Regions from separate parts of the Homo sapiens genome. Here regions 1, 2 and 3 are each linked to region 4. Evidence: fine-mapped expression QTL. A gene starts in region 4. Each other region holds a variant in brackets. All regions are shown on one strand. Distances are from middle to middle. Region 1 has its middle 47 kb from the start of METRNL. Region 2 has its middle 22 kb from the start of METRNL. Region 3 overlaps LOC101929650 (a long non-coding RNA gene). Region 4 holds the start of METRNL (meteorin like, glial cell differentiation regulator).

The links. PIP is the estimated chance that this variant, and not a neighbour inherited with it, causes the effect.
Region 1: its variant is the best candidate, but not a certain one, in a credible set for the expression of METRNL in whole blood (TOPMed, PIP 0.59).
Region 2: its variant is the best candidate, but not a certain one, in a credible set for the expression of METRNL in monocytes after interferon gamma (Fairfax 2014, PIP 0.50).
Region 3: its variant is the best candidate, but not a certain one, in a credible set for the expression of METRNL in whole blood (INTERVAL, PIP 0.80).

Annotation. Positions count from the first base shown.
Region 1 is chr17:83,123,510-83,130,467 of GRCh38, forward strand. No RefSeq gene overlaps it. Among named protein-coding and RNA genes, the nearest start is that of METRNL, 47 kb to the left of the region's middle. The variant C/G (reference allele first, on the strand shown) is at 4,557.
Region 2 is chr17:83,097,582-83,105,413 of GRCh38, forward strand. No RefSeq gene overlaps it. Among named protein-coding and RNA genes, the nearest start is that of METRNL, 22 kb to the left of the region's middle. RefSeq lists an enhancer at 842-1,838. The variant A/G (reference allele first, on the strand shown) is at 2,670.
Region 3 is chr17:83,200,016-83,208,216 of GRCh38, forward strand. All of the region lies in intron 2 of LOC101929650 (a long non-coding RNA gene), which reads left to right. Among named protein-coding and RNA genes, the nearest start is that of METRNL, 120 kb to the left of the region's middle. RefSeq lists a silencer at 5,434-5,593. The variant G/A (reference allele first, on the strand shown) is at 4,136.
Region 4 is chr17:83,075,203-83,081,528 of GRCh38, forward strand. It overlaps METRNL (meteorin like, glial cell differentiation regulator), which reads left to right and starts at 4,407. Exons shown (of 4, transcript NM_001004431.3): 1 at 4,407-4,783. The coding sequence starts at 4,614.

The DNA of each region.
Region 1 (6,958 bases), 49 kb after region 4:
GCGCACGTCACCACACCCGGCTAATTTTGTATTTTTAGTAGAGACGGGATTTCACCATGTTGGTCAGGCTGGTCTTGAACTCCTGAGCTCAGGTGATCCGCCTGCCTCGGCCTCCCAAAGTGCTGGGATTACCAGCGTGAGCCACCGCACCTGGACTGTTTATTTGATTTTAAGGCTACTTCGTGTTTAGGTGTGACAGTGTTATTGTGGTTACCCTCTTTAATACTCCTTGCATTTCAGCAGCATTTGCAGGGAAAATGATATAATGTGCGGGATTTGCTTTTCCACGTATGAGAGAGTGGGATGTGGATGAGCAAGATGGGCGAGTATTGATAATTACTGAAGCCAGGGGACTGGACACTGGGGTTTGTCTTACTATTTTCTCTACTTTTGTATTATGTTTGAAATTTTTAATAACACAAATGTATCAACATTGAGGCCCTTGTGGAGCCTACAGGCTGATGAACCTGTACGTGTGTGAGACGATGAAACGAACGAGAAGACGGCCTAATGTGGTGCAGAAGAAACGCTGTGAGGAAGCTGGGGAGGAGCGTGGGGGCTGTGATGTTAGAGGGGTGGCCTCACTGAGAAAGCACAGCACACGCTTTAGGGGTGGGGTTCCAGCCAAGAAGCCGCACAGCAGAGGCCATGGCTGGGACTGGAGCTGCTATGGCCCAAGGGGAATGGGGAGGAGGCCCCCCAGCCCTGGTTGGTGCTGGGAGACTGTGGACCAGGTGGGTTGGACATGGAGCCCCTGGAGGGCTCGGGCAGCCGTGGCACCATCTGGGGGCTTGTTGGGGGCACAGGGAGACCTGTTGACCGGGCCCCGCCAGGGACCAGGCAGAGCTTATGCTGCTGGGCTGGGGCTGGCCTTGGAGAGCTTGTGTGTGTGGAGCAAGCCTGTGCCTCAGTCCGTTCAAAGGAGCCCGAGAAAGAGGAGCATCCCCCGGATGGGGCCCATGAAGCTCCTCCCTGGGAAGCAGCCTGAGGGCACCCCTGGCCCAGGGGCTGAGTCCTGACGGCGTCTGCAACCTCTGGGCTGTGGTCTCCCTGAGCCCTGATGGCATCTGCAACCTCTGGGCTGTGGTCTCCCCAGTCCTGACGGCGTCTGCATCCTCTGGGCTGTGGTCTCCCTGAGTCCTGACGGCGTCTGCAACCTCTGGGCTGTGGTCTCCCTGAGTCCTGATGGCGTCTGCAACCTCTGGGCTGTGGTCTCCCTGAGTCCTGATGGCGTCTGCAACCTCTGGGCTGTGGTCTCCCTGAGTCCTGATGGCGTCTGCAACCTCTGGGCTGTGGTCTCCGGGAGCCTTGACGGCATCTGCAACCTCTGGGCTGTGGTCTCCCTGAGCCCTGATGGCGTCTGCAACCTCTGGGCTGTGGTCTCCCTGAGTCCTGATGGCGTCTGCAACCTCTGGGCTGTGGTCTCCGGGAGCCTTGACGGTGTCTGCAACCTCTGGGCTGTGGTCTCCCTGAGTCCTGACAGCGTCTGCAACCTCTGGGCTGTGGTCTCCCCAGTCCTGACGGTGTCTGCATCCTCTGGGCTGTGGTCTCCCTGAGTCCTGACGGCGTCTGCAACCTCTGGGCTGTGGTCTCCGGGAGCCCTGACGGCGTCTGCAACCTCTGGGCTGTGGTCTCTGGGAGCCCTGACGGCATCTGCAACCTCTGGGCTGTGGTCTCCGGGAGCCCTGACGGCATCTGCAACCTCTGGGCTGTGGTCTCCCTGAGCCCTGACGGCATCTGCAACCTCTGGGCTGTGGTCTCCCCGAGCCCTGGCAACCCCTATCCCTCTCCGCTCTCCTTCGGGCACACAGCCCGGCATCTCTGCTCTCCAAGGGCTCGTAGTGCCTGAAGCCGACACTCTCTCTCCTGCACACACACAGGTCGATGCCTTCTTGTTCCCAGTGCTTCAGAACAGAGCTGGCAGCGGCTGCGGCAGGAGCAGCTCCCACTGACAGGCTCCTGCAGCCTCCTTCCCACCTGCACAGGAAAAAAGCCCGCATCCATTCTGTAAGGAGCTAGAGCAGCTCTTTGGCATCCTGTACAGGCCTTGGAATGCTTCAGGGAAAAAAGATGATTCCGCATCAGAATGGCTGTGGTCAGACTTGCTGGCAGAAGCCTCCCCCAGGCTCTTGACATGTGGCTTCTGGTCCCTTTTCCTGCCACACCCCTGGGTTCCGCGCAGACCTGGGTCCTTGAAGAACTGAAATTCTAGCTCAACCTCGGCAACTCTGTAGCCATTCGCTGGAAATTTCCTAAGAGAATAAATTGCAACACAGTGCGGCGGATGGGCTGTGTGGGTTTATTTTTACCACGCGCTTAGTGCTATAAAGACGTCACCTTAAATCAGGAGCGTGCAGGCGTCAGTAGGAAATATGTGCATGTGGCAGGTGACGCAGGCCACACCCTCGCCCTCGAACCCCTGGCTTCCTGCACCTGAGCGGGTGGAGCCCAGCTTGACTCCAGCCCTGACGATGGACCTGGGTGCAGAGGGGACCCCTGGTGACCTGCAAGGTCCGACCTTCTGTCCCTTCATGCAGGGAACCTGTGGGGCTGTCACTCCTGAGGGAAGCTCTGAGTCTGTTTCTCTGGGGATTTGCCAGGGGAGAAGGTCATCCACCTGTCGGCTGGTAAGACAGGGTTCCCTGCATGTGATGACAACTTCCTTTCAAAGCCAGCAGCTTGCACAGCGTTTGCTCAGGTTCTCTGAACGGATTACCATTCATTCACCCTGCACCCCTGCTCCACTGAATGCTGGGGGCAGCAGAGGCAGCTCTGGCCATTGGGGCAGCCGCACGACTGTNGGGGGCAGTCAGGACCGGGAAGCCTTGGGCAGTGTAGGGTGCCGTGACCAGGGAGGGTCTGCTTCTTGCAACAGCCCCTTTCCCTTTGCACAGAAAATAATCTGAGGACAAGAACAGTGGCGTGGCTGGAATGGCTGGGGCTGCTCAGGGCCTCTGTTGTTCAGCTGGGCTTGCACCTGAGGCTGACCCCTGGTCTCTGAGACAAGCTGATGGCCATCAGATGCCACAACCCCTGTCTGGACAGGCCCCGAGGACGTGTGTCACCGCAAGGAGCTCAAAGAGGATGGTGGAGTGTCTGGGTCAGAGGTCAGGACCCACCTTGCATCAGCGGGCTTGGGTTTAGTCATTTACCTAGGAGGTTGAGGGTCATCCTGGCTTAAGTCCAGGGCATAGCACAGCAAAATCTACCCTTTGGGAGTTCATAAAGAACATGCATAGTTCTGGCCTCGTGGCGGTCGCCAGCTCTCCCAGGGCCCTGCTCTTCTCTGAGTGACCACTGCCCTCTGGTCTGGTGGACGCCTGGGCATCTGTTTCTATGAAACAACCTGTTTGTTTCTGTGTTTCAAATATTTGTGTTTATTATGGAAGAGACATTATTTTTTCATGGAATTCTGAAGACTGTCATTTTTGAAGGATAAGCAGGTTTTGGACAATTTGCAATTCTTACAACTGTCTGTAAATTTACATTACTGTTATAAATGAGAAGACCCTTCTGATATTCAGACACCTTGTTAAATACTGGCTCGTCATTGATGCGTGCAGCCCAGTGTGGGCTTTGTGGGGGTTTGAAGTGTGTGTGGTTTGTAGCACACGGACATTCCCCTCCCAACGCAGAGGCATCTTTGGCACGAGCTTCAACCGTAAATCCAGAAACAAGCTTGCTGGCTTTGGACTTCATGGGCCGGTTAAGTAACCCCCCATAGCTGAGGACTGATTTAAATGTACTTTTAATTTTGTCCAACAATAAAAAAAAAAATAAAGCAAGCAATAGCAGACATCGTCACTTATGGGAAGTGCCTGGGGACGACAGAGTCGGCCTGAAGGATGCTGCTCTCAGAGGCAGGCAATGGCCCCTCCGGGCACAGACGCTTTGGACTCTGCCTGTCTCCCTGAGCAGCAGCAGCCGTGACCATGTCCCTGTGTGTGGCCCTTGGTCCTGTGCATGTTCAGACCACAGCCCACAGCTGTCCTCGCGACCCCAGGCAGACACTGACCACAGGACACTGAGAGGTTCAATGCAAGGCAGGCACCACAGCACGAGGGGCTGAGTGCAAGAGCTCAGGCCGTCCTCTCCGAGAGCCCCACGCTGGAAGGGTGGGTGCGGGATCTGTAGGGTGGGGTGTGGGATCTGTAGGGTGGGTGTGGAATTGTAGGGTGGGTGTGGGATCTGTAGGGTGGGTGTGGGATTGTAGGGTGGGTGTGGGATCTGTAGGGTGGGTGTGGGATTGTAGGGGGGGTGTGGGATCTGTAGGGTGGGTGTGGGATCTGTAGGGTGGGTGTGGGATCTGTAGGGTGGGGTGCGGGATCTGTAGGGTGGGGTGCGGGATCTGTAGGGTGGGGTGTGGGATCTGTAGGGTGGCAGGTCCCCCACCAGGTTCTTAAGGCCCTGTGTTCGCAGCCTGGGCCCTGAAAGCCAGGTGGTGAGCCAAGGCCCTGGTGCCCAGGCCAGGAGTTGGTGTCTCTGAGAACCCAAAGATCGAGGAGAGGCTCTGAGAACCCACCGAGGAAACAGCCCCATCACACACACACAGGAGG[C/G]AAAGCCAGAAGATCAGCTTAAAATAGTTTGGAGACGGGAGGCGGCGCAGGTCTCAGGGCTGTCCTGCCACTGTGCAGCAGTGTCCTTGGTAAATCCTGATCAACACATTGACTCGTCAGATAACGTGGACCCTTCTGAGTCATTTCTTGGTCTTTTGACCCTTCCCAGTTTGGGAGGGGGTACGTCACAGTCCCAAGTTTTTCTCGTAAAGGGGTGTCCCCCATAGAATGCACCCTTGAGATCACATGGTCCTGGAGCCCCTTTCCAGGGGGTTCCAGAACAATGCTATGAAACATTTGTTCATTTGATTCGTATTTGTTGAATTCCTGCTACCTACCAGTCACTCTCAAGCATAACACGGAGCTGGTTCTGCAGACTACACCCGGGCATCTGGGAACTGGCACCCAGGAGAGCACCCGACACCGCTGAGCTGGGCCAGCAGGTCGTTCTCTCTGATTCCCCATCAGCCTTGCAAGACCTGTCTTAGGAAGAGGAGTCCAAGTGAGAAAGGGGCAGATCCTGGAGCCGGGAAGGGATTTGGGGGAGGGCCCCTGACGCCCTGTGGGCTGACCGTTCCCCGGTGCCACTCAGGAGTCTCCTGTGGAGCCCTCACATTTGCAGTGGGATGTGCTGTAGGTTTACGGGATCCCAGCGCCAGACAGAGTGAGAGGAACGGGACATTCATGCTGGTGTCCGTGGGTCCCGCCTGTTGCCTCTCAGACCTCTCACCGAGCTTCTTGACCTGGGCTTCGCAGACCCTGGGCTCTTGGACCTGTGTTCAAAGGAGCATGGACTCTGGCTGGGNTTGCTAAAGCTTCAGANAACTGTCCAGCGCTGAGTGGAGCGGAGGCAAGCCCAGGGGTGCTGCCCAGAGGCAGCTTCCTGAGAAAATGAAGTTGCTGTTGTTTAAAGCCACCGAGGTTTTGCAGCAACGGGGGAGTGAGCATTGGTCTCCACCACGCCCGGGGCCGGGTCAGGCCAGGACGAAGGGTGATGTTTCCTGTGCGGATCCCGTAGGTGGAGTTCACCGTCACTGGGAGGCCTCACAATCATTGCTTTATTCACCTCGACAGGTCCCATGAGGCGAGCCCCCGCTCCTCCCTTATTTAAGCATTTTAAATAACGAGTTTACAAATTTCCAACTTCAAAATGTGTTAAAAAATCTTCACTCCTCCCACCTCCTCTCCCGTCTGCTCAGTCCTGCCTCTTGGAAGAGGCAGCCATTGTCACTGGTGTCTTAGGTGACTTCCCAGAGGTCCTTTAGCACATACAGTTCAATACAAATACATATTCCCTGACTTTTACACCAACGGCAGGATGTTACATACACTTTTCTCCTTGTTACTTAAAAATTTTTAAATTTTCTTTCATTTTTATAATAGACTTTATTTTTAGGGCAGTGTTAGGTCTACAGAAAATTGAGGGGATCGTAGAGAGAGTTCCCACATACCCACGTCCAGTTTCTTGCACTGTTAACAGTTTATGTTAGAATGATACTTTGTTACAATCAATGAACCAGTGTTGNCACATGATTGTTAGCTAAAGTCTGAAGTTTATTCACGTCTTTAGTTTCCCCTAAATGTCCTTTCTCTGTCCCAGGACCCATCCAGGGTCCCACATGACACTTTGTCCCGCGTCTCCGTAGGCCTCTCGGGGCTGGGCAGTTCTCAGACTGGCTTTTGGTGACTGGGACAGTTTTGAGGAGGCCTGTTGGGTGTTTGGTAGCTGCGTCTCTGTTAGAATTGTTCTGATGTGTTTCTCGTGGTAAGACTGGGGTTTGGGGCCTGGGGACAATGACCCCAGAGGTGAAGTGCCCTGCTCACCCCATCCTGTGAGGGACTCACACACCCAGCACGGATGCTTGCTGTGGACACTGGCCTCGGCCACCCAGCTGAGGGGAGTCGGTCAGGTCTCCCCACGGTGATGTGATCCTTTTCCTTCCCTCTCCATACTCTCGGGAAGGAAGTCAGTCTACACAGCCCACACTTGAGGGTTGCGTATTTATGTTTAATTTAATATTATTTATTGGAGATCTTTTCATATGACTACAAAAAGAACTTCGTGTTCTGTTTCACGCCTCATAGTATTCTATTGTACGCATCTGCCGAGACATTTGACCGGTCCTCTCCTTGATGTGCATTTAGGATGTAAGTATCATTGAAGACACATACTTTTTTTTTTTTTGAGATGCAGTCTCACTCTGTAGCCCAGGCTGGAGTGCGGTGGCGCGATCTCGGCTCACTGCAAGCTCCGCCTCCCGGGTTCACGCCATTCTCCTGCCTCAGCCTCCCGAGTAGCTGGGACTACAGGCTCACGCCACCACGCCCGGCTATTTTTTTTGTATTTTTAGTAGAGATGGGTTTTCACCGTGTTAGCCAGGATGGTCTCCATCTCCTGACCT
Region 2 (7,832 bases), 23 kb after region 4:
TGCAGGACACCCCTGCCTGCAGATCTGCACCCCCAGCTCCTTCCTGGGGACTTGATATCATGACCCTGCCTGGCACCCCAGGGGTGAATGCTGCACCCAGCCCTGAGGGTTTCCATCTGCTGGGGGCATCTGACCTGGGCAGGCCAGGGTGGGTGGGAGGGAGTCCAGCGGGGGAGGTGCAGGGTGGCCAGGGGGAGACACTGCCCTGGCTGGAGCCTGGATTCACTAGGTCATCACCAATGCAGGGGGTCCTGGCTCACTGGACTTTGCTACTAGAGAAGGTTGGGGAGCTCCACATGAAGGCAAGAAGGCTGGGGCTCAGGGTGTAACTCATCCCCGGAGAGCAACCAGAAAGGCCGTCGGATTGCAACGCAGCCTGCATTGTCCTCGCTGAACGCCTGGTCCTGTCCCACCTGCACCGGACAGCAACTGCTTCCCCTCCAGGGCGGCCCCCATCGTCCCCCAGGTGCTGCAAGAGCAGTGAGACTTACCCAAGACAAGTCAGAGGCTTTGGAGCTCTCGGGGGCGGTGGCTTCTCCCAGGAGCCCCGTATCTGTCAGTCCCCCCATAAGGGGAGGGGAGTTGGCAAGGCTCCTCCTTGCTCCCAGCGTGAGGATTGCCCCTACTTTTCCGGCCCCCACTTGCCCCCTCCACCTGCCCTTTTCCCTCCGGGAAGCCCTGGAGGTTTTCCAAGAACTCTGCGGGTCGAGGGGGCAGCCTATGTGGGGTGGCGGGGGGCCTCCTGCTTGTTGGATGCCCAGACGCCTACACCTTTCACCCTGGGGTCCAGTCGGCTGATGGCCATGAGAGAGAAGCTGAGAGCAACCAGAGCCCACAGCTCCATGCTGGTCCCCCATCTGCAAACGCTGGGCCCCATGGGAGCTGTGACTCGGTTTCCAGCTCGTCACAGGGCTGGCCGAGGCCCCGGCATGTCAAGCCATCTCAGGTTGGGCAGGAATGTGGTCCGTGTTCACATGTGTCTCTGTGTGTGTGAGAGAGAGGGGTCAGCTGGGACGCTGGGGTGGCAGGGACAGTCCTGGCTCACCCCTCATCCTCCCTCGACCTCGACTCCCTCCACATGAGGAGCCCCCCCTTCCTGGCTATCCTGTGAGTTGAGCTTCCTCTGCTGGGAGGGCTTTGTCAGAGGTTCCCTGCGGTTCCAGAAGGAAAGCTGGCTGCAGGGAGGGCCGGGCACTGGACACCGTGTGGCTGAGCCTGTGGCGGGGGCTGCACAGCTGGGTTCCCAGCCCCCCTCCTTGTCCCCACCCCACCGCACTGGGAGGCCCTGCTGAGGGGCCAGAGTCCGGCTGCAGGTCCCACGGGTGGGGGTGGGGCCCCTCATTAGCACTGCAGCTGACACTGAGGGCTTCCACCTCGCTAATTGATTAAACTGTTTAGAAACCAGGCCGGCGTGGTGGGAATTGGCCCCGGCCGGGCTGTCCGCTCCCCTTCTGTGCAGGCAGCGGCCCCCGGAGTTCATCAGTCAGGCCGGTTGGTGGGGTCCCGGCCCTGGCTGCCCTCGGGAACCCTTCTTTGCTCCTTTGTGCGGTCAAAATGGTGAGGGTCCTGAGAGGAGCTGGTGAGACCCCGGGGTCCTCTCCTCCCTGACCACTCACTGGGCGAGCATGGAGGGAGGCCTACTGTGCACGGGCATGTTCCTGGGAACCTGCCTGCTGGGATTAAACCCGCCCTTGTGAAGGACGGCAGGTGGGTCACTCAATACCAGGAGGGGCACGGGGCTGTGAGCAGAGGCCCGAGAGCCTTCTGAGGCGGCACCGGGTGCTCCTGGGCCCTGCTCTCCTGGGATTTGTTGTGCCTGTGACCTCAGCCTCTTCCTTCCTCTCCTGTGGGATTCCCCCAACACCCCCTCCCCTCCTGCCATTCCTTCCCCCACCAGGCCCCATGCCTCCCCTCCCCAGTGCCCCCTACCCCCAGGTCTTCCCTCTAGGACATCAGCCTGGGCTGTGGGTCTTGGTCTCCCACAGAGACTGAGTCCTGGGAGAAGGGCAGAGCCTTGGTTCCCAGTGCAGCCCCTGTGCCAGCCTGCAGTGGGCACCGGTTCAGCCGGTGCACACTGGGTCCTGCCCCCACCTGAGGAGCGGCCTGGGGCCTGATCAGCCCTGCTGGTGTCTGGCCTGCAGCCAGCACCGGCTCTGCTATTCACACTTGGTTACAGGTGGGTGCCCATCCCAGCAGCCTCGGAGCAGAGTGGGTCGGGCTCCGGAGGTGGGGGCGGCCACTAACAGCAGGAGGTCGTGGCAGTGCGGCTATGGCAGGGGTTCTGAGGGGCGGAAGGCAGGGGCGGGACGTGGGGACGCAGACCTGCAGGGAGGACGCCGGCTCACCCAGCAGGGAGGGGATGGCCGCCCAGGGACCCCCAGCCTGCCCGCTCTGCTTCCCCGACCGCCGGGGCAGGGGCCCCACGGGGGACGCCAGGGAACGTGAGGAATCCGGAGTCAACACTGGGCCACTGTGTGCTGCCAGCCGGGCGGGCCGTGATTTATAAAGACAGCGGAGGCTTGGCTGGTGTCGGGGCGGTGAGGTCACGGCGGCCGGGGGCTCTGGAATTTCTTCAGAAGAATTTTGCTTACCAAGCCACATACTTTTCTAGCCATCAGTTTGATCAGAGGCAAGATGAAAAATATGCTAAAAAACAAAGAAACAAAAAT[A/G]CACCCGGGGGGCTCCGGTGAGGGGGAGGGGCGCTGCGGGAGGGGTGGAGGGCCCAGGGAAGGGTGAGGGGCCGGGAGCCACTCTGCCCGGCACTCTCCGCCCAGAAACAGCCCAACGCCCCTTTCTTTCCCCTTTTAGCACTGCTGAGCTGGACTAAAATGCCCAACAAGGAACTTTACTAAAAACTGAGGCAAGAAAGAAAACACACATGACATAAAAATAGTCAAGGGCACATTCTTGATGGTAGATAACTGGTCTCTGGCCACAGCGGCTGCCAGGTTGGGTGTCGGCCGGCGGGTCTGCCAGTCCCACCCATAGGCACTGCACTTCCCTGGGCCGGACAGGGGGTGTGGCGGGTCTGTGGGCGGGGGGACAAGGTTGGCAGGACCGTGAGGGGGGTGGTGGGTCTGTGGGAGGGGGACAAGGTTGGCAGGACCGTGAGGGGGGTGGCGGGTCTGTGGGCGGGGGGACAAGGTTGGCAGGACCGTGAGGGGGGTGGTGGGTCTGTGGGAGGGGGACAAGGGTGGCAGGACCGTGAGGGGGGTGGCGGGTCTGTGGGAGGGGGGACAAGGTTGGCAGGACCGTGAGGGGGGTGGCGGGTCTGTGGGCAGGTGGACAAGGGTGGCAGGACCTGTGAGATGATGTGAGTGCAGCACAGTGGGGCTCTGTAAGAAGCGACCCGGGCAGCTTGAGCAGGGGCAGGCTGGGCGGTGCCTACGGGTCTCTGTCCACCGGAGCCTCTGTTCAGCCCACCTCAGTGTCGCTCCGGATGTGGATAGAAGGAGACACTGTCTGGGCCACAGACCAGGTGCTTCCTTCGTCCTGACCACACCTGCTTCTGCCCAGGAGACGCTGCAGGGGCTGTGCTCCCCGCCCGGCTACTCTTGAGTGGTCCCCAGGCTCCTCCTCCTCCCGGTTCCACCTGGAGCCGTGGGGCTGTGCCGGGGATGCCTCGCTGCAGCTGCAGCTCAGGGAGAACTCACTGCTGGAGCTTCTGCCTCTCCCGTGCCGTGGGGCCGAGCCGAGCTCCACCAGGGTCTGGACTTCTGCACGGGCAGCTGTGCTTCCCAGGGTCGTGGAGAGGGGTCCTTGGTCCCAGCCACTGTGTGACCTCGACCAGGACACTTGACTTTCCTGCCCCCAGAGGGTCTTGTCTGGACCTCCAGAGCCCCCAGCCTTGCTCACTTGGCTCTGCTTCTGGGCAGGGTGCCCTGGCATTGCTGTTGCTGGCACCTGCCGTGCCTTGGAGGGGTCTCCAGTGGGACCTCTGAGCACGGCTCTTCCTGTACTTCTCAGAGGTGAGCAGAGGGCATTTGTGGGAGAACTGGAACCTGGGGAGGAAAAACCCCAAGGCTGGCAAAGACTCCCTGCAGTCTGTCCAGTGATCCACTGAGGCTGAGTGGTGGAGGACATGGAGGCCGGCCCGGGACCAGGACATGGAGGCCGGCCAGGGACCTGGGGAAGAGAGGGCCTCAGTCTGGTGAGACCAGCCTGGTGGGTGCCTGGGGAAGAGAGGGCCTCAGTCCTGTGAGACCAGCCTGGTGGGTGCCTGGGGAAGAGAGGCCCTCAGTCCGGTGAGGAGACCAGCCTGGTGGGTGCAGGCCACCCTTGCCTGCTGTCAGGGCCTGCCCTTCTCTCCGGCCTCCAGCTGCTTTGCCCCAGCGATCAGGCGCCTGAGCTTCCTCCCCCGAGCCTGAGTCCAGCTGAGCTCCGTGTGGCTTTCCCGGTGGAGCAGACTCTGTCTGATTTCCCAACGGCTGGCGCCTCCCAGGGCGTGCTCCTTGCCACGGAACAGCCCCTTGGGGCCAGGTGTGTACTCCAGGCAGTGGCCCGGCAGTGCTGGGAAGTGCCGGTCATGGCTGCTGCACGTGGGTTGCTGTCTGGGAGAGTCCTGTGGTGTTTGCTGAGGGCGGAGGACACCGAGGACAGAGAATGGGCAACTTCCAGGGAGGGCCCAGATGCAGCCACGACTGGGGTGCATCTGGGATACCTCGTCCAGGGACACTCCCCACCATGGCCTGGTGCCTGTCCAGCAGGAAGAGCTTCAGGGCAGTAGGAAGGGGGAGTGGCCCCAGCTGCAGAGGGAAGGAGCTTGGTGGCAGGGCGGCAGGAGGGATGGGAGGTCAGGCTGACGTCCACTGGCGAGAACACTTCAGATGAAGATAGTGTGGACCCCTGCCCAGTCCCAACACAGGCCCCAGACGCCCTGAAACCCCAGGGGCTCAGCCCAAAGCAAGGGCAGGAAGCATTGCTTTACTGAGAAACCATAAAAATGTAGAATTCCACCTCAAACGCTGCTGTGGCCGATACTGAAGGTTAGAAATGAGCCGGTGGGGCCCGACACGGTGGCTCACGCCTGTAATTCCACCACTTTGGGAGGCCGAGGCAGGCAGATCATGAGGTCAGGAGATCGAGACCATCCTGGCTAACATGGTGAAACCCCGTCTCTACTAAAAATACAAAAAGAAATTAGACGGGCCTGGTGGCGGGCACCTGTAGTCCCAGCTGCTTGGGAGGCTGAGGCAGGAGAATGGTGTGAACCCAGGAGGCGGGGCTTGCAGTGAGCTGAGATTGCACCACCGCACTCCAGCCTGGGTGATAGAGCAAGAAAAAAAAAAAAAGAAAGAAAAGAAATGAGCAGGTGGGTGCTTCCCAGGGGGGCCCCGTGGCCTGTCGGCCCCATGCATGATGGCCCTCAACTCAGCCACAGCTCCCAGGGCAGCTGTGGCTCCTTGGGTGGCCCAAGACAGCTGCTGCGTGGTGTGAGCTTCGCTCATGAGGCTGGGCAGAGGCTGGGATCCCAGGTGTGAAGATGGGCCTGGGTGGTGGCTGCTGGACCTTGTTGTCACAGATGTGCCACCTGCTTCCCAAAACCGAGCACCAGGGGTCTGAGAGGTTGCTATGGGAAGGTCGCTTGCTCCAGGGGGCCCTGGAACAGTTGCTAAGTTTAACGCCCTGGCCCAGGATCCACCTGTCCTGCTGCAGACCAGCCCTGCTCATTCCTCCCTCTGGCTGTGAAGATGGAAGCCCATGGGTTGGATGCCTCGGGCCAGGGCTGTCACGCAAGGAAGCCTGGGGAGGACTGTGGCACTGACCCCATGGGCCATGGTATCGCCTCAGGGCCCTGCCCCTCTGATGTCCGTCTCCTCGGGGCCCCGCCCCTCTGGATCTCGTCTCCTCAGGGCCCCGCCCCTCTGGATCTCGTCTCCTCGGCGCCCCGCCCCTCTGGATCCCTGTCTCCTCGGGGCCCCGCCCCTCTGGATCTCGTCTCCTCGGCGCCCCGCCCCTCTGGATCTCCGTCTCCTCGGCGCCCCACCCCTCTGATCCCCGTCTCCTCGGCGCCCCGCCCCTCTGATCTCCTCTCCTCGGGGCCCCGCCCCTCTGATTCCAGTCTCCTCGGCGCCCCGCCCCTCTGGATCTCCGTCTCCTCGGCGCCCCACCCCTCTGATCTCGGTCTCCTCGGCGCCCCACCCCTCTGGAGTTCCGTCTCCTCGGGGCCCCGCCCCTCTGGATCTCGTCTCCTCGGCGCCCCGCCCCTCTGATCTCGGTCTCCTCGGCGCCCCGCCCCTCTGGATCCCCGTCTCCTCGGCGCCCCGCCCCTCTGGATCTCCGTCTCCTCGGGGCCCCGCCCCTCTGGATCTCCGTCTCCTCGGGGCTCCGCCCCTCTGATCTCCTGCACGCACCCGGCCTCGCCTGAAAAGCCCCACGTACAGCAAAGCGGCCGTGTCTTGGTGGCCTCTGCCTGGGGCGCTATGGGTGGCCTGTCTATGCCTCAGTTTCCCCATTCTTGATGAGAGGGAGCTGGGGTCGCTACTGGTCACTCGGGCCCCAGGCAGACCAAGGCTCACTTCTGTCCACTCCCTGGCCCCATTCCCAGGAATCCCACCGGTTCCTGGCCGGGGTCTGGAATCTGTTCTCCCAGTCCAGGACCTACCCTCCCCTCCACTTCCTGCCTGCAAGCTCTGTGGTCCTTCCTTGTCTTGAGTCCAGGGTTCCCTGTGCTCCCAGTCCAGCCTCCCTACTCAGGGCCGAGGGCACCAGGAGGATGGTCGTTGCAAAAGAATATGGGAGGCCGGGTGCGGCGGCTCACGCCTGTAATCCCAGTACTTCTGGGAGGCCAAGGGGGGCGGATGACTTGAGGCCGTGCAACACCTGCCAGCACCAGCATTTGACACGGAATCGAAGAAAACAGGCAGGACATACCCTGACTACACTAGTACAAGTCATCGGCGTCTCGGGGTCCTGGGTTTTAGAAATCACACTGTCAGGGAGGGCTGATGGGGTCCTGGGTTGGAGGCTGGAAGTGGAGGAATCGAGGCATAGGCAGAAACTTGAAGGAAGGGTCAGCCGAGCTGGCCAGAAGGGGGCTCCTCGCCACGGTCCCCAGGGAAGCACTTTGCTCATGGGCCCCGGCCCTGAGAGAGGAGCTCCTGCCTCTTCCCACTCGGAGAGGGCTGACAGGAGAGGCTTGGCCTGGTGTTTCCTGATGAGATAGCGGGCACGTTCCGGGAAGCGGTGAGCAGGCCCAGCAGACATCAGATGTGGTGCTTCCTGTCTCCTGTGAATGCGCCTGGCCCTTGAGGGGGGTCTGGGATGGAGAGTCGGGGGAGGGGAACCCCACTCGCCCTTCTCCTTGTTGTTCTTGGCAGCTGGACTTGGGCAATTGTGCCTCCACCCTCTGGAGGGGCCTCCCCCTGTGCTGGCTGCAGATCAGAGGGGCGATGGGGAGGGATCCACCGGTCCAGGCGGGGGCTCACCTTCCAGACCCGGGCGTGGGCGAGAGGGGTGCATGGGAGGACGCCCGATGCCTCAGGGCCCCCGGTCAGCAGCGAGGCACAGACTCTCCTCTGGGCGGTGATGGCCCTGCACGAGGTCCGTGTGCCGTCTGCCTGCACAGGGAGAGGAAAGGATCACGCGACCATGGGTACGTTGGCCACCTGAAGGTTGAGTCCCGCAGCCTAGAGACTGGAGCGTGGGGACCAGGAGGAGCTTCTTAGCGGAACTGGGCTGGGGCTCATGCAGCCCTCCAGGAGCCCCCGACGCGACGCCCTGGCTCATCCCGGGTGAAGAGGCTGCTGAGTCTGAACTGATGACAGTGGACGGGTGGCCGCCGGTTCCCAACGCATGGTTGGGCCTGGAACCCAGGTGACTCTGGGAGATGT
Region 3 (8,201 bases), 130 kb after region 4:
GCCGTCACAGGAAACACATGAATCAGCCTCATCCTCAGTTCCAGGGAAGTGGGGACAGTCGGTGGTCCTTGGACCCCTCTTGGGGCGCGTGGGTGAGGCAGGGTCCCTCTGGCTTTACCTCATACCCGGACTGGCAAAGCTGCCTGGGAGGACAACTAAAACCATGCTCCTTTGATTCTGTGGACATTGCTAATTGCTGGGCGTTCATTTCTTGAATTCAGACCTTCTCATGAACCAGAGGAGCTGGCTCAGAAAAATGCCGGTGACGCATGGGCCTGAACTGGTCAGTGCAGCTCAGAGATGCTCGCCGTGGGGGACGTGCAGTTTGCCTGTGGGCCAGTTGTCCACCCGTCACCGTTACCCCGCTGAGGAAGCTGTGGGTGCCACCCAGAGAGCTTGGGTACAACACGGTCTCTGCTTTACTCATAAAAAGCCAAGACCTATGTGGTCATGGAGCGTTAAAACAGAAATTTCACACCACGCCGTACGGTCCCCGAGGCCAGGGTGTTGGCACATTTCACATCCAGGAGGTGCCGTCGCTGTCACTGGCTCAGCAAAGCCAGTGCCGAAGCCACTGCAACTGCCTGAGGCCCAGCGGTGGCTGGGAGCCAATTGGTGTCACTCGGTTACCACAGGGAAGGAGACGTGGCTGTAGAGGCTTGTCGCAGGTCACAGAGAAGGGACTTTTGGGCTCCAGGCCTAGTGGGTTCGAGTCAGCACGGTGTCTTCCCCGACACCAAACCCAAGGACCCTCAGCACTTCCTGACCTCAGGTTTCTATTTCTAGGGTGGGGAGTAGAGGTGAAGGGAAGCAAAGTCAGAGTTGAATATAAAGCTCCAGAAAAACTCAGCTCAGAATTGACTAGAGGGTTGAGAGCCTGAGATCCCTAAGGGGACATGTCAACCCAGGGCAGCCGCTGAGGGAGACTGACATGGTTTCCATGGTCCTTCCACTGGGCTGGGGCCCTCCCTGGGGAGTCTGTGCTGGGCTGGACCTTCTTCCCTGCCAGTGGCCTCTCCTGGCTGGTTGGGGAGCTCCGGGGGAGCAGACGGCAAGAGTCTTGTTTGGAAACATGCCCTTCCCAGGAAATCCCCAAAACAAAACCTGAGAAGATCTCCTGGAAGCTCAAAAGCAATTTTCTTTTCATATGTCGGGCCAATAAGAGTTAATTTCACCCAGTTTCTATATTTTCATGGGTCCTTAGAAGCTTTCTGACCCTGTGCCCTGAGACTTAGGGTCTGATGGCTGAAGGAACCTTGGTCCCAGGTCCCTCTCCTGTGGAGGGGCCGTCAGAGGGAGAGAAGAGCTCGCCCTGGTTCACTTGGCCTGTCCTGAAAGAGAACCAGGAGGGAGAGCAGCCTAGCATGGGTGCACACAAGCATATGTACAAACATGTGCTAGGGCAACTCACACACGTCCACATGCATGCACATACACACATGCCCACACCCATGCACACTTATGTGTGCACACAGATTCAGACTGTACCTGTACACTTCCACACTTCCACATGCATGCACATACACACATGCCCACACCCATGCACACTTGTGTGTGCACACACAGATTCAGACTGTACCTGTACACTTACTTCCACATGCATGCACATACATGTCCACGCCCATGCACACTTGTATGTGCTTGCACAGATTCACACGTGTACATGCACACACACATTAGCATGTCCTTGCATATGCACACATACACACATCTGACTTCACATTACATACACACATGTACATGCACATACATGACACACATGGCTCGAACTGGAGGGGAGGGTCCCAGTTGCTCCCCTCGCCTGACCATCTAGTAAGTGTTGTGCCCCATGCTGCCCCATCCTGGGCTCCTGGCCAGGCTCTAAGATTAACTAGAGAGGCTCTGTCCCTAAGAAAGGTCATGCACTTCAGGGTAGGTAAGGTGGACAGGCAAGGCCTGGTGACCTCGGCCCATCCTTGTGCCTCCAGAAGCCGTAACTCACCTCAAAGAGGTTTTCCTGCTGGAGGGAACTATCTCTGAGCAACAGGGGCAGACTTCACAGCTCAGGCGCCCTCCTGAAGGTAAGAGGCACTGGGCTCGCCTATCAAAGACACTCTCCTGTCCCCGCAGGTTCCCATATGTCCCATCAGGGAGCTGGGCTCCAAAGTCTCCCGCCCTGCTTCTCCTAGAGAATGCAAAGGCTGCCTCTCTTCCCTCCCAGTGTAACCTGACCCTCCTCTGTGCCCCTTGGCCACCCTTGCATCCTCTAGCTCCTTCTGACACCTTCTTTTTGACTGTTCACAGAGGGCAGGATCTGAAGCCTGCAGAGGTGACCCTTGGTGCCTTGTGCAAGGCTGGCCAGCAAGTAAGCATGACTTTTGGCTCTGCTGCCAGCTGGGCCATTTGATCTACACACACTTTTCTGCCTCTACCTGGAGTTAGGCGAGGCTCTCTATAGAATGGGTACTTGTCAACAAAGTGGGCTTAGACTCCGGGCAGTAGCAGTTGAGGCAGGAGCAGTGGGAGAAGTCTGGGCTAATGGCAAGCACCCAGTCCCCTCTGTGAGCTGCCCACTTGTCCCAGGCTCTGCCATGGCCCTTCCTCTGATTTTTAGGAGCTTTCATGAGGCCTCGCACAGCCTGAAGGAGCAGAGCTTGTTGTGCTAATCCCCAGCATCCTCTGCAGAGTTCTCAACACCTTGTGGCCGAAAGGTCCTTCAGATTGTCCAGGCACCCACCCCGAAAACCAGCCCTGGCATGGGGGTGCTGACCCCTCCCGGAGCAGTGGGGTGCAGGGCTCATAAGGCGGGGTCTGCAAAGCATGCTGGGGTCTTGCTCTGTGCTTACTCCAAGGATGCAGCCCGGAGTGCCACTGCTCTTGGACTTTCCTTGAGACACCCAGAGCATTGTGTGGCCATCACTTCTCACGTGGTCTGGCTGCTTGGGGGGCTGGCCTGAGTCAGCTAGGGCCAGTGCTCACCTTATCCTAATCACCTACTGGGGGATTTTGTAGGCTTGACCCTCCATGCCCTGGTGTTTCCCACAGGCTGTGAGGTTCTAGGGTGTCCCAGGGAGGATAGACGAGGCTGGTGTCCTAGGATCCCTCCCTGTCCGATCCAAGGTGAGGCTGCCAGGGAATGGAATCTGGCTCTCAGGCATGGGGGCCAGGCTCGCCTGCAGCCTCAATGTGGCTGGGCCCTGAAGGCCAGGGGTGGGTGGGGTGCAGCCCAGAGCTTTCTGCGGCTGAATCACCCTCTGGGTACAGGAAGCCTGACCGCATGACTTCCAAACTGATGCAACTCGGACTTTCTACTGAATTTGTGAGCTGTGATACTATTGCTTCTGAAGTCAAAGAGGGCTCAGAGGGTTCACGGAGCATTCCCTTTCAATGACGATCGGCCTCTCTGGAATATCTCCAGTGTCAGCAGGGATGGTGTCAGGGTTCTCCTAGCAAGAAGTCATAAGGAATGGAAGGGCTGAGAAAAATGAGGGTTAGAGTGACACCATGTCAGTCCCCCTGGCTAGCCTCTGCCAGCTGGACAAGCTGGGGCCTCCTCTCCACCTTGACTGGCCTGTGCCGGGGGAGGGAGCCAAGGGCAGGACCCTCTTGCACCTCTACCCTGGGCCTGGTCCATTCTCGCTCCTGGGACCTCCCCAGAGACCTCCGCAGCACACCCCACCAGCACAGTGAGCAGCACGGAGAGACCCAGACCGAAGTGGCCATGTGCTCCATGTGAGGGCTCCGTAGGAAGCAAGGATGTACAAGTGGCTCCTTTTCCCTTCCTAGGGGTCCCTTGCAGGGCTGGGACCCCACTCTAGGCGAGGCCTCTGGGCAAGGATGACCGTCCCTGCCTGCCTCTGGGAAAGAGTAAGTTCCTGCTCCTGGTGTCAGCGCCGACTGGTTCTCCAGGGACCACGGCGGAGGTCTGCCCTCTGTCTTACTTTCTCATAGAGATTTTCCGTGGGACCTGGGCTCCCTGCCTGGTTAGGGCTGGTTGAAGAATAAGTGGGAACGGTGGAGGAAGGAAGGGGATGTGCCAGCTGTTGCTCTGGCCCTTTCGTGTGGATATGAATCCCTGGTGAGAGGCAGATCCTGCGGTCAGTGCGGAGCCCACCACATTCCCCCAGGAGGGTGTGTCCGGGGCTGTGTATGGGGG[G/A]AAGCTGGGCAAACAGGGTCATGCCGTGAATGCAGGGGCAGGAGCAGGGACGTTTCTCTCTGCAGACACTGGTGCTCCCCAAAGCAGGAGAAATGGCACACAGCCATGTTGTGGACACATTTGTGAGAAAATTCCTCTGAATGTCAGAGAACATGGAAGAGATGAAGCTACCAGCTTAGAGAGACACAGGAACACATACTACAGACACACAGCACGCACATACCCAGACACACCCAGACACACTCACCAGACACACAGACTCACACAGAGAACACACCACGTCACACACAGAGATTCACAAAGAACCACATCACACACGTTTTCACCCACAGAGAGAACATACCCACATCATACCCATGTGCTGACACACAAGAGCATAAACTCACACACACATACATGAACTCACACCGAGAACACAGGCATCACACACAGGGACTCACGCACAGAGGGCATGTGGACACTACACACATGTTCTCACACAGCACACGCCCCGTCACACCCATGAACTCACACCGAGAACACAACATCACACACAGGGACTCACGCACAGAGGACATGTGGACACTACACACATGTTCTCACACAGCACACGCCCCGTCACACCCATGAACTCACACCGAGAACACAACATCACACACAGGGACTCACGCACAGAGGACATGTGGACACTACACACATGTTCTCACACAGCACGCCCCGTCACACCCATGAACTCACACCCAGAACACAACATCACACACAGGGACTCACGCACAGAGGACATGTGGACACTACACACATGTTCTCACACAGAACACACCCCGTCACACCCACACCCCCACATGCGTAGACACACACATCCTTACTCTGCGCGCATCCCTGGCCTGGTGGACGGAAGATCGAGCGCTCTGGGTGGACTTACGGCCACAGGACGGGGGCAGAGTCGGCAGGGAGGCCCCTCCGAGGCCCAGTGGGCCCTGCGCTGGCCCCGGCCGCAGACGCCCACCTGCTGTGCTGGCTGCGGCGTGTGCCCCGGGGTCTGTGGCTGACCTGGCCTCCACGTCTCACCCATGAAGCAGGCATGAGAGGCTGGCCAGGTTGGCTAAATGGGACCACAGCAGAAGCACAAGCCCCAGAATGTGCACGAAGGAAGAGAGAGCCGGGGGAGGTGGCGGGCTGGGTGTGCAGAGTGGGCCTGAGCTCCGGCCTCCTCCCTGGACGCCCTCCCGTGGCCGCAGCCATCCCTGCACCCACTGATGTGGCCTGACCCCTCACCCTGAGCCCACCCTTCGCGGCCACTAGGGAACCTCAGGAGAGGCCGCCGCGGTGGGGTGGGCGGATTCCCCCGGAGCAGGCCCAGGCCCCTGCTTCTGAGCGCTCCTGCAGCGCCGCCTGCTGGCCACAGAGAACCCGCGTGTGCCGGCCGCCAGGCCTGGGCATCTCCTCTCCTGCAGCGCCGCCTGCTGGCCACAGAGAACCCACGTGCGCCGGCCGCCAGGCCTGGGCATCTCCTCTCCTGCAGCGCCGCCTGCTGGCCACAGAGAACCCACGTGTGCCGGCCGCCAGGCCTGGGCATCTCCTCTCCTGCAGCGCCGCCTGCTGGCCACAGAGAACCCACGTGCGCCGGCCGCCAGGCCTGGGCATCTCCCCTCCTGCAGCGCCGCCTGCTGGCCACAGAGAACCCACGTGTGCCGGCCGCCAGGCCTGGGCATCTCCTCTCCTGCAGCGCCGCCTGCTGGCCACAGAGAACCCGCGTGCGCCGGCCGCCAGGCCTGGGCATCTCCCCTCCTGCAGCGCCGCCTGCTGGCCACAGAGAACCCACGTACGCCAGCCGCCAGGCCTGGGCATCTCCCCGGGCCCTAGTTCCCCCCCTCACCTAAGGGGAGGGACTCCCGTCTTTCCATCCACCCCCTCCTTGCCTCTGCAGAGCTCCAGGGAAGGCTGGCACCCGCTCACTGCATTTAGACTCCATCAGGTTCAGACAGTGGGTCAGGGTACAAGGCTTCAGCGGCCAGGGATGTGGCCTCTAATTTGTAGAGAGAAAGAAGGGCAGAGGTAGGTAGGTAGATATATGATAGATGGTTGATAGATAAAAATAGATGAAATAGATGGCATGGTTACATAGGTGGGTAGGTAGATAGATGACAGATAGAAAGACAATAGACCACTGGGGGCTGAGCCTGGCCTGAGCCAGAAAGGTGAGAAGGGGACAGCGGTGAGGACCCCACAGGTCCCTGCTCTCACCTATTAGCCCCAGTGTTTGGCCTGAGCTCTGACTGACAGCTCCCTCTTTCCGAGATGAGACTCAAGAGGAGGAAGAGGGGACTTCCTAAGGACAGGGATTCTTGGTGTCTCCTTGGGGCTGGTAGACACTGCCTGCCTCGCCTGCTGTGGCCTCTCTGCACACAACCAACGACCCCTAAAGGGCTCCATGGGCGCCCATGCTGCCCCCATCAGCTGACACCCCCTGTGCGAAGATTCTCCTCCTCCTCTTCCTCCTGCCTTTCTGTCCCCTCATCCTCCTCTTTATGGAATTAACTTCCCTTGGTCAACATCTTCCTGCTTCACTCACTTCCCTAAACTCCTCCCTATCCCTTCTCAATCTGCAAGAAAAATGTAGAAAGAATATGGTAAAGGAAAGCTTTGAGCCCATATTTGGGTCCAATGCCGACACCACATGCCCCAAAGCCCCCTTGAGAGCATCCACGTCCGTGTAGTTGAGTATTGCCCGAGCTGGAGTGAGATTTGCCTCTCTACGGAGCTGCCTTCCTGCAGTTCAAGAGCACTGTCTCTTTTCTGGGCCTCCTGCCTGGTGCAAGGGCCCCAGCTGAGCCTCCTCCAGCTCTGACCTCTGGTGGTCCCGGGCTACCCCAGAGGGTCTTGCCCGGGCTCTGACACTTGGCATGGGCTGGGAGCTCCAGCAGCCACAGCCCAGCCCTGGGGAGGCTTTGTGGTCTCTGAGGGGGCAGGTGCACTCCCCCAACTCCAGTTCATGTTTTTCCCTCCAACTCTAAGCCTTTTTCTTCCTCTGCTATTACCCAGGCACCCTACCCTGTCAACAACACTGGCCTTCAAGACCCTTTGTAGCATAACTCCCACCTATAACTCCCACCTGAAGCCAGCCCTTCCCACCTCTGCGCCTCTGATGCCCAGGACAGCTCTGACCGTGGGCAGCTCTGACCCAGGACAGCTCTGACCTTGGGCAGCCCTGATCTGGGGCAGCTCTGACCTCGAGTAGCTGTGACCCTGGGCAGCTCTGACTCTGGGTAGTCGTGACCCTGGGGAGCTCTCAGCATGGGGGTTGCACGCTCCTGTTTAGACAGCTGCCGTCCCCCAAGCTGGCTCACTATCCCATGTTGGAGTGCACTGTTCGGGGCTGCCTGCCTGGATTGATGCAGGGAAACTTGGTTCCAGCCCACCTCCTCCTGCGGAGGCTGAGTCAGGGGCTCTTCCCTCGGCCAGGCTGAAAGGCAGCAGTTGGTCCCCCTGTGAGGTCTTCCACATGGCCTGGGAGAGTCTCCCCATCTCTTCAGGCAGAAGGGAGGACAGTCCATAATGTTCCTTCCAGTCCTCTGACTTGTCATTTTTCTACCCCAAATCTTGCACTTTAACCCCATAGAGAGCTCCTGAAGGGGGAATTTTAACTGGCAAAACTCAGAACTCCATCCAAACACAACCGAAACCATCCTGGGTGGCTTAGAGGTGGCTGCCTCCCAGACAAGTCCATAGCCCCACAGAAACGTCTGGTCCTTCACCTGCTAGAGCTCAGGCTTTTTGGTTGAAGCCGGAGACAGGCCCAGCTCAGAGTGTGCCCCGGTTTATCCTGAGCACAGACTTGGTGCGGTGTGTGTGACAGACCAGCGAAGCGGGTCTTGCTGCCTGTCCTGTGGTTGGCCCTTGGCTCCCAGCCTCGAGTCCTACCCTTAGGCCAGGTCAGAGCAGGTTCAGCAGCAGGACTGGCTAGGCACCACCCAGGCTCATGAGGTGGCTTTGTGGGGAGGAAATGAGGTTTTTTTTTTTCTCTTGTAAAGTTGCTTGTTGTTAATTTAAAATTTTAATTTCATTTCTGAATTAACATTCAGCAAAA
Region 4 (6,326 bases):
CTGCTACAAACAACTGCTAGGACGGTGTGGGGCCAGCGTGCCACACAGAACTGTCTCTCACTGCCGAGCTGGCGGCTGGTGGCCTCTCTCCACCTGGCCAACCTGGGGGCAAGCACCACCCAAGGTCACATAGCCGGCCAGCATCGGCCTGGACTTGTATCTGACTCAAGGAAACTCCCTACTCCCACTTTTCTCTGACGCACAGAGAGCAGCACATGGCAGCAAATTAGGTTAAGGAGGGGGTTAGGGAAGAATGACACACTGAAGGTCATCAGGTGGAGGCTGGCTGGCATCCGTGGCTGTTTCGTGTAGTAATTACACGTTGCTCATTGAAGTTGAGTTACAAGCACAGGCTCTCCATGTATCATTCAACCACAATTACGATAATTACGAGAAGGTTGGCGAAAATGGCCTGGGAGGGAAACGGGTGGCAAATGACTTGGGAGGTGGTGGTTGGGCGGGGCCGTGGGATGAACTGTGCTCACGTGAACGACAGACTGCGACGTTCTTCAGTATTTTTCAAATGCTGAAAGAGAAAATTTCATGGACGCGCTTGGGGAAACCGTGTGATGTTTTTCTGGAGGAATCCAGCTACTCTGGGAGGAGCTGTTTCTTTAGTGAGTGGATTCAGGTGACTGGTCATCTTGGGCAGCACATTGGCCGTCAACACACATTTGAAAACCTCAAGACTGGGCCAAAAATAAAAGCAGTAAAGTCCACCGGGTTGTGCCAGTGGCTCAGAGAACTCGCAGCTGTGGGGAGCACGGCGGGAGGGGTTCCCCCCACCCAGCCCCATGAGGGCCCCAAGGCCTGATGACAGCCCGGTGGTGCCTTGAACAGGTGAGAATCAGCCCCCACCTGGGGACGTGGCGTTGAATCCTGACATCGTAAACCCTACGACGCCCTGGGAATCAAGAACAGATCCACTTTGCAGGTAACTGAGGCTCAGAAACAGACTCCAACCCCACCATGTCTGTGACCCAGAGCTGGGGGCTGACGTCCGAGCCAGGTCCGTCCACCACCCCACAGGGCCTGTAGGCACCCGGCATAGGAAAGGCCGAGAAAGGGGTCCAGTCCCACAGCCCTCCACCCCAGCAAATTCCCAGGTGCTGGGTCCCTGCAATGCACGCGATAAAAACTCCCGGGTCAAATACACAGAGGTGACCCTGCCGAGGTCACTCGATCCTAACAGTGGGTCGTGGTCCTCGGACATGGGAGGCCACGTCCTGCTTTCTGAGGCCTCAGACCCTGGTGAGGCACAGAAGGACTGTCCAGGGTGCACCCAGAATTTTTTTCACGGACGTCTGCCCAGGAGGCTTCTGAGAGCTGTTTCTCGAGGGAATGGATAGATGAGGAAAGAGAGAGGGTTGATGTAGACCTACGGTTGGGCCACAGGCCCCCCTGGCCCAGGTCCCTTAGCTGCCATCTCCCAGGATGCAGAAGCATCACTGCAGGGCCCGCCGGTAGAGGGAATGGGCAGGCGTGATCCTGGTGGGTTCTGGAGCTCTCCGATTCCACGGCTCAGCCTCAACGTTCCGACTCAGGTAGGAAGTATCAGAGCTTCACGCAAAGCTGCGAAGACCAGCTCCTTCCCACGAGTGGGTGGGTGGGATGATGCTGTGGCCCCTTCCTGGGTCTAACCCCGTGACATGCTCACTGGGAAGCAGTCCCTTCCCAGACATCCAGGGACAAACACACCCAAGGCCCTTTCCTTGCAGACCCTCCCAGAGGACCAGGGGGAGGGCCACACACCATGACCAGCTGGGATCCTTTTGGTTCATAATCGGCCTCTCGGGGTCTGGTGGTACAAGGGGCAGTGTACCAGTGGCTGGGAACACCCCCAGACAGCCTTGACCACCTCAGCCTGCATCCTCTAGGAGCCTGATACCTCCTGACACCAGGAACCCCGTCTACAGGGGACGTCTCACCTGTAGGTGGCCTCGCTGGGCCAGGACAGGGGTCAGCAGAGGTGCCCAGGAGCACCCAATGTCTCTGGGGCATGAACCTCCTCAAGGGAACAGCTTGGGGAACCACAGCCCCAGGGTGGAAAGGGCCAGGCTCCTTTCCCAAGACAGATTAGCTTCTTCCGAGAATACTGGCCAGCAAGCATTCTTACTCTAGTTTTGTTTTGTTTTAATTAGCAGACTTAATGTTTTAGGTTTACAGAAACACCAAGCAGATGGTAGAGGTCCCCCACACACCCTCTCCCTGACCCAGTTTCTCTTATGATTACCTTCTCTCATTAGGGTGTAGGCGTGTGACAGTCAAAGAACCAATATTGATCCGTTATTATTACAAATGTCTCAAGCCTCCATCAGGATTCACTCTTGTGCTGTATTTTCTACGGGTTTTGAAAAGTACACGTGGGTCCCATACTCACCATCGTACGATCCCAGTCTTAGGACAGCCCGCTGGGCACAGGAGGCTGGGCATCCTGCCAGGTGGCAGATCTCTGCCCCAGCCTAGGCTGGAACCAGCTGCCTGCTGACCAGAGGCGGCCTCTCCCCTTCGGTCTAGCAGCCACCAGGGGCTCTGAGACCCTGAGCAGGTCACGGCAGGTCCTGAGTTCCCCATGTCCGCATCTATAACTCAAGAGATCCCAGCACTGCCCTGCCTCTTCCGTGGTGTGATGATCTGGACCCTGATAGGCCATGTGGCCCTTCAAGGGTGGACCGGGCCTGGGGGGGCTGCTATCTTATGCTTGGTGGGCATGGAAAGCAGTTGCTGCGCACAGGTGTGAAGCCGCAGGTCCCTTTCCACAGCAGGTCCCTTTCCACAGCAGGTCCCTTTCCACTGGGCACCCTGGTACCTGCAGTGATGGGGGTGGGGGGAGGTGCACTCCTAGAGCAGACGGGGGTGGGTGGGGCAGTCTCCAAGCTCCGAAATGCACCTCCACCAGACCTTGAGCCTCAGGGTGATGTCACTTGATGTGCTGGGCAAGGTCCTGGCTCCAGGCTTTCGATGGGGTGGGTGCTCTGAACAGATCCTTACAATGAAACTACCTTCAGTGGTCACTGTCATCGCCTTCCAGTTCTTCAGACCCTCACCCTTGTCCCAGCTTTCCTGGGCTGGGGGCTGGGCTCCACCTGCCTTTGCCGGTGACTTCCGTCCCTGCAGACTCACAATTTTCAAAGCCCTCTCCCCGCCTCCTCTGGTAGTCACAACCCAGTTATTCAGACTTGCACAGGTCGTTCGCAAGTCCTCCTGGAAGGTATCTTGGCTGGAAAAGGGGACAAGGCCAAGCTTCCCCACCGCTGGATGCTGCGCTCGGCTCTGGAACTGACACCAGGCGTCTCGGGCAGGGCCACTGACCCGCAGCACACAGAAGCCAGCTTTGCCATCGCAGCGGGGACCGCCGGGCGGGCCAGCTCCGCCCTCTCCTGCCTGGGGGGCCCTCGGCACCCTCTGGCTCCCCTTCTCTGGCCTGAGTCTCTAGGGCCTCCCCAGTCCGGGCGGGGGTCTCCGCTGTCCCCCCCACTGGGTCAGGCACGTGGTGGCCGCGGTGACCACCTGGGGAAGGCGCCGACTCCGAGGAACACACTCGAGCAGGACGCTCCGCAGGTGATTCTGCCCCGCGGGCACGGGGTGGGGGCGGGATTTGGCCAAATCTGCAGAGAGTTTAGGTTGTCAAAGCTGGGGCGGGGGTTGCTACTGATACCCAGAGTGCGGGGGCCAGGGTGCTGCCAACATCCCACCATGCGCAGGACGTCCCCACCCCAAGAACCACCCGGCCCCGCGTATCCGGAGCGAGGAGTGGGCAGCGCTCGGCAGAGGCCCCGGCGCGGCGGCTGCACGTCCTCCGGGAGGAGGGAGGGAAGCCGGGCTCACCGCCGGGCCTCCCCCCCGGTCAGGAGGGAGCCGGGAACTCCCGAGGCACCAACTCTGCGGAACGCGGGGCGCCCGGATCGCCCCTGATCACCGCCCGCTGGCGAGGCGCGGGGGACCCAGAACCGGCGGGGCCGGGAGCCTCCTTTACCGCTCCGCGCCGGGGCTGCCCGCAGGATGGGGCGCAGGATGGGGCGCAGGATGCGGCCCCGGCACCGCCTCGCGGGGGTCTGCGGGGGGCGACCGCGGCTCGCGTCGGCCACTACTTGGGGGTCTCGGGTTTCCGCCCCGCCCTCGCCTTGCAACCCCTCCGGCCCCGGACTCCGCTTTCCAGGCCGGGCTCTTCCCTCCGGACCCCGCTCGCCGCCCGGCGCGGCCCCCTCCTCCTGCAGCGCCCCCCGCCCCGGCGCCCGCGCCCCCGATTCGCTGCTGACTCGGTGTCTGCGCGTCCGGCCGGGCGCCCCGGGAGGAGTTTCCGGCGCGGGGCGGGGTCGGGGGCGGGGTCGGGGGCGGGGCGGGGCGGCGGGTGGGCCCCACCCCCCAGCTGAGCCCGGCCGGGCGGACTCGGACTCGCCAACTTCAGAGGCTCGGCGGCGGCGGCGGGCGCGGAGCTCTGCGCGCGGCTCCAGCGGGCCGGGATGGGCGGGCGGCCGCGCGGAGGACGCGGGGGGCGCGCGACGTGACCACCCGGACTCGAAGCCCGCCCCGCCCCCGCCCGGCTCGCCGGCTCCGGGGTCTGCTCCGGGGGTCGCGGACGCGGGGCCGGGCGGCGGAGCCGGCGCCAGAGCATGCGGGGCGCGGCGCGGGCGGCCTGGGGGCGCGCGGGGCAGCCGTGGCCGCGACCCCCCGCCCCGGGCCCGCCCCCGCCGCCGCTCCCGCTGCTGCTCCTGCTCCTGGCCGGGCTGCTGGGCGGCGCGGGCGCGCAGTACTCCAGCGACCGGTGCAGCTGGAAGGGGAGGTGAGTGTGCGCGGCGCGACCCCGGCCCGGCCCCCTCCCCTCGCGTCCCCTCCCGTCCCGGGCCGGCCGAGCGTGCGGGGGCGCGGCCGGGGGCGGGCGCGGGGCAGGGGCTCCGGGGGCCGCTCTCCAGGCCCAGTCCGGTGCCCGCTGTCCCCCGCCCCCGGTTCTAGAACAAAAGAGCCCGCGGCGTCCCGGTTCCCGGCCCGGAGGACGCCCGGGGGAGGCGCGCCTGCAGCGCGGCCGGGTGGGTCCCGGCTCCGCGCGTGTCCGAGCCTCGGGGGCCGCCGGTCCCGCGACCCCATCCCGGGGGCAGGCGGGGGTCGGTCCTCGGGCCCTTCCTGGCAGGCTCCGGGAGTTGCGCGCCCCGAGGCCGCCCCGGGCCAGAGCGGGAAGGGACGGCCGCGGGAGGGAGCGGCGGTTTCGGGGATCGGGCGCGGACCGCAGCGGGGGCCACTTCCGTCTCGGGGAGCCGCGGGCGGGCACCTGTGAGCCGGGCCGAGTGTGGCTCCGGCCGGGCCCCCCGCCCCTGCCCCGTGAAGGTCAGGCCGCCCTTGGCCGCGGCGCGCGCTGCGCTGGGCGACCCCCCCCCCCCCCACCCGCGGTGGCGGCCGAGGACTTTTTTTTTTTTTTTTTTTTTTTGACTCAAGCGTGGCCGCCGAGAGCGGCGCCGACCGCGACTGCCCCTCGGGAGCCGCCGCCGCTCCCACGCGAAGCCCAGGGCGCCGAGGGCACCGCGGCCGAACCCGCCCTGCGCGAGCCTCGCAGTCGCCAGTTCCGGGGTTCGCAGATGCGCGGGGACCCGAGTGACGCGCGCCTCCCGGAGAGCCGTGGCCGGGCTGGCCCGGGCCTGGGTCCCGCTTCCCCTCGGCGCGGCCCCCGCCCCCGCCCCCGCCCCCGCCGCGGGCCGAGTCACGCGGTGATGTCGAGCGAAGCTGTTTTCCGAGAAGGTCGGGGCAGAGCCGGTGCGGGGCGGGTGGTGTCCGCGGGGCGGGCGCAGGTCTCCCCGCAGCCGCAGCCTCCGTTCCGGGTCCCCGCGAAGCCACAGTCGCCCCCCAGCGCCCCCGGCGGAGCCTCCCCGGGGGAAGGGGCGTGGCGCTGGGGGGCAGAGTCGCCCCGAGGGCCGTGGGCGGTGCCCGGCTGTCCCGGGAGCGGCCGCCTCCCTTCTCGGCCGAGCGGGGCCGCGGGCGGATGGAGGTCTGGGGGGGGTCGGCCGGGAACGCCGGCGCCGGGAGCCTCCGAGGCCGACGGCTCTTCTGGGGCCGCCCCTGCCCCCGCGGAGTGATTCAGCCCCGGCTCGCTGCCTCTGCCCGGCGGGTCGGTGCATCCCCGAACCGAGGCCCGGGGCGTTCCGCTCCAGCAGACCGAAGCCAGAAACGCCGCCCCCGCCACCCAGGCCGAGTGTGTCGAGAAGGGGCCGGCGCCCTTTTCAGGGTGTCAGGGGACTGTGTGCCCGGTAGGAGGGGGCGCCTCCCGGAGCCCGAAGGGAGGGCGCGGTAGGCAGCCGAGGGTGGCGGGGAGGCCACCCCTCCACCTCCAGGGGCGG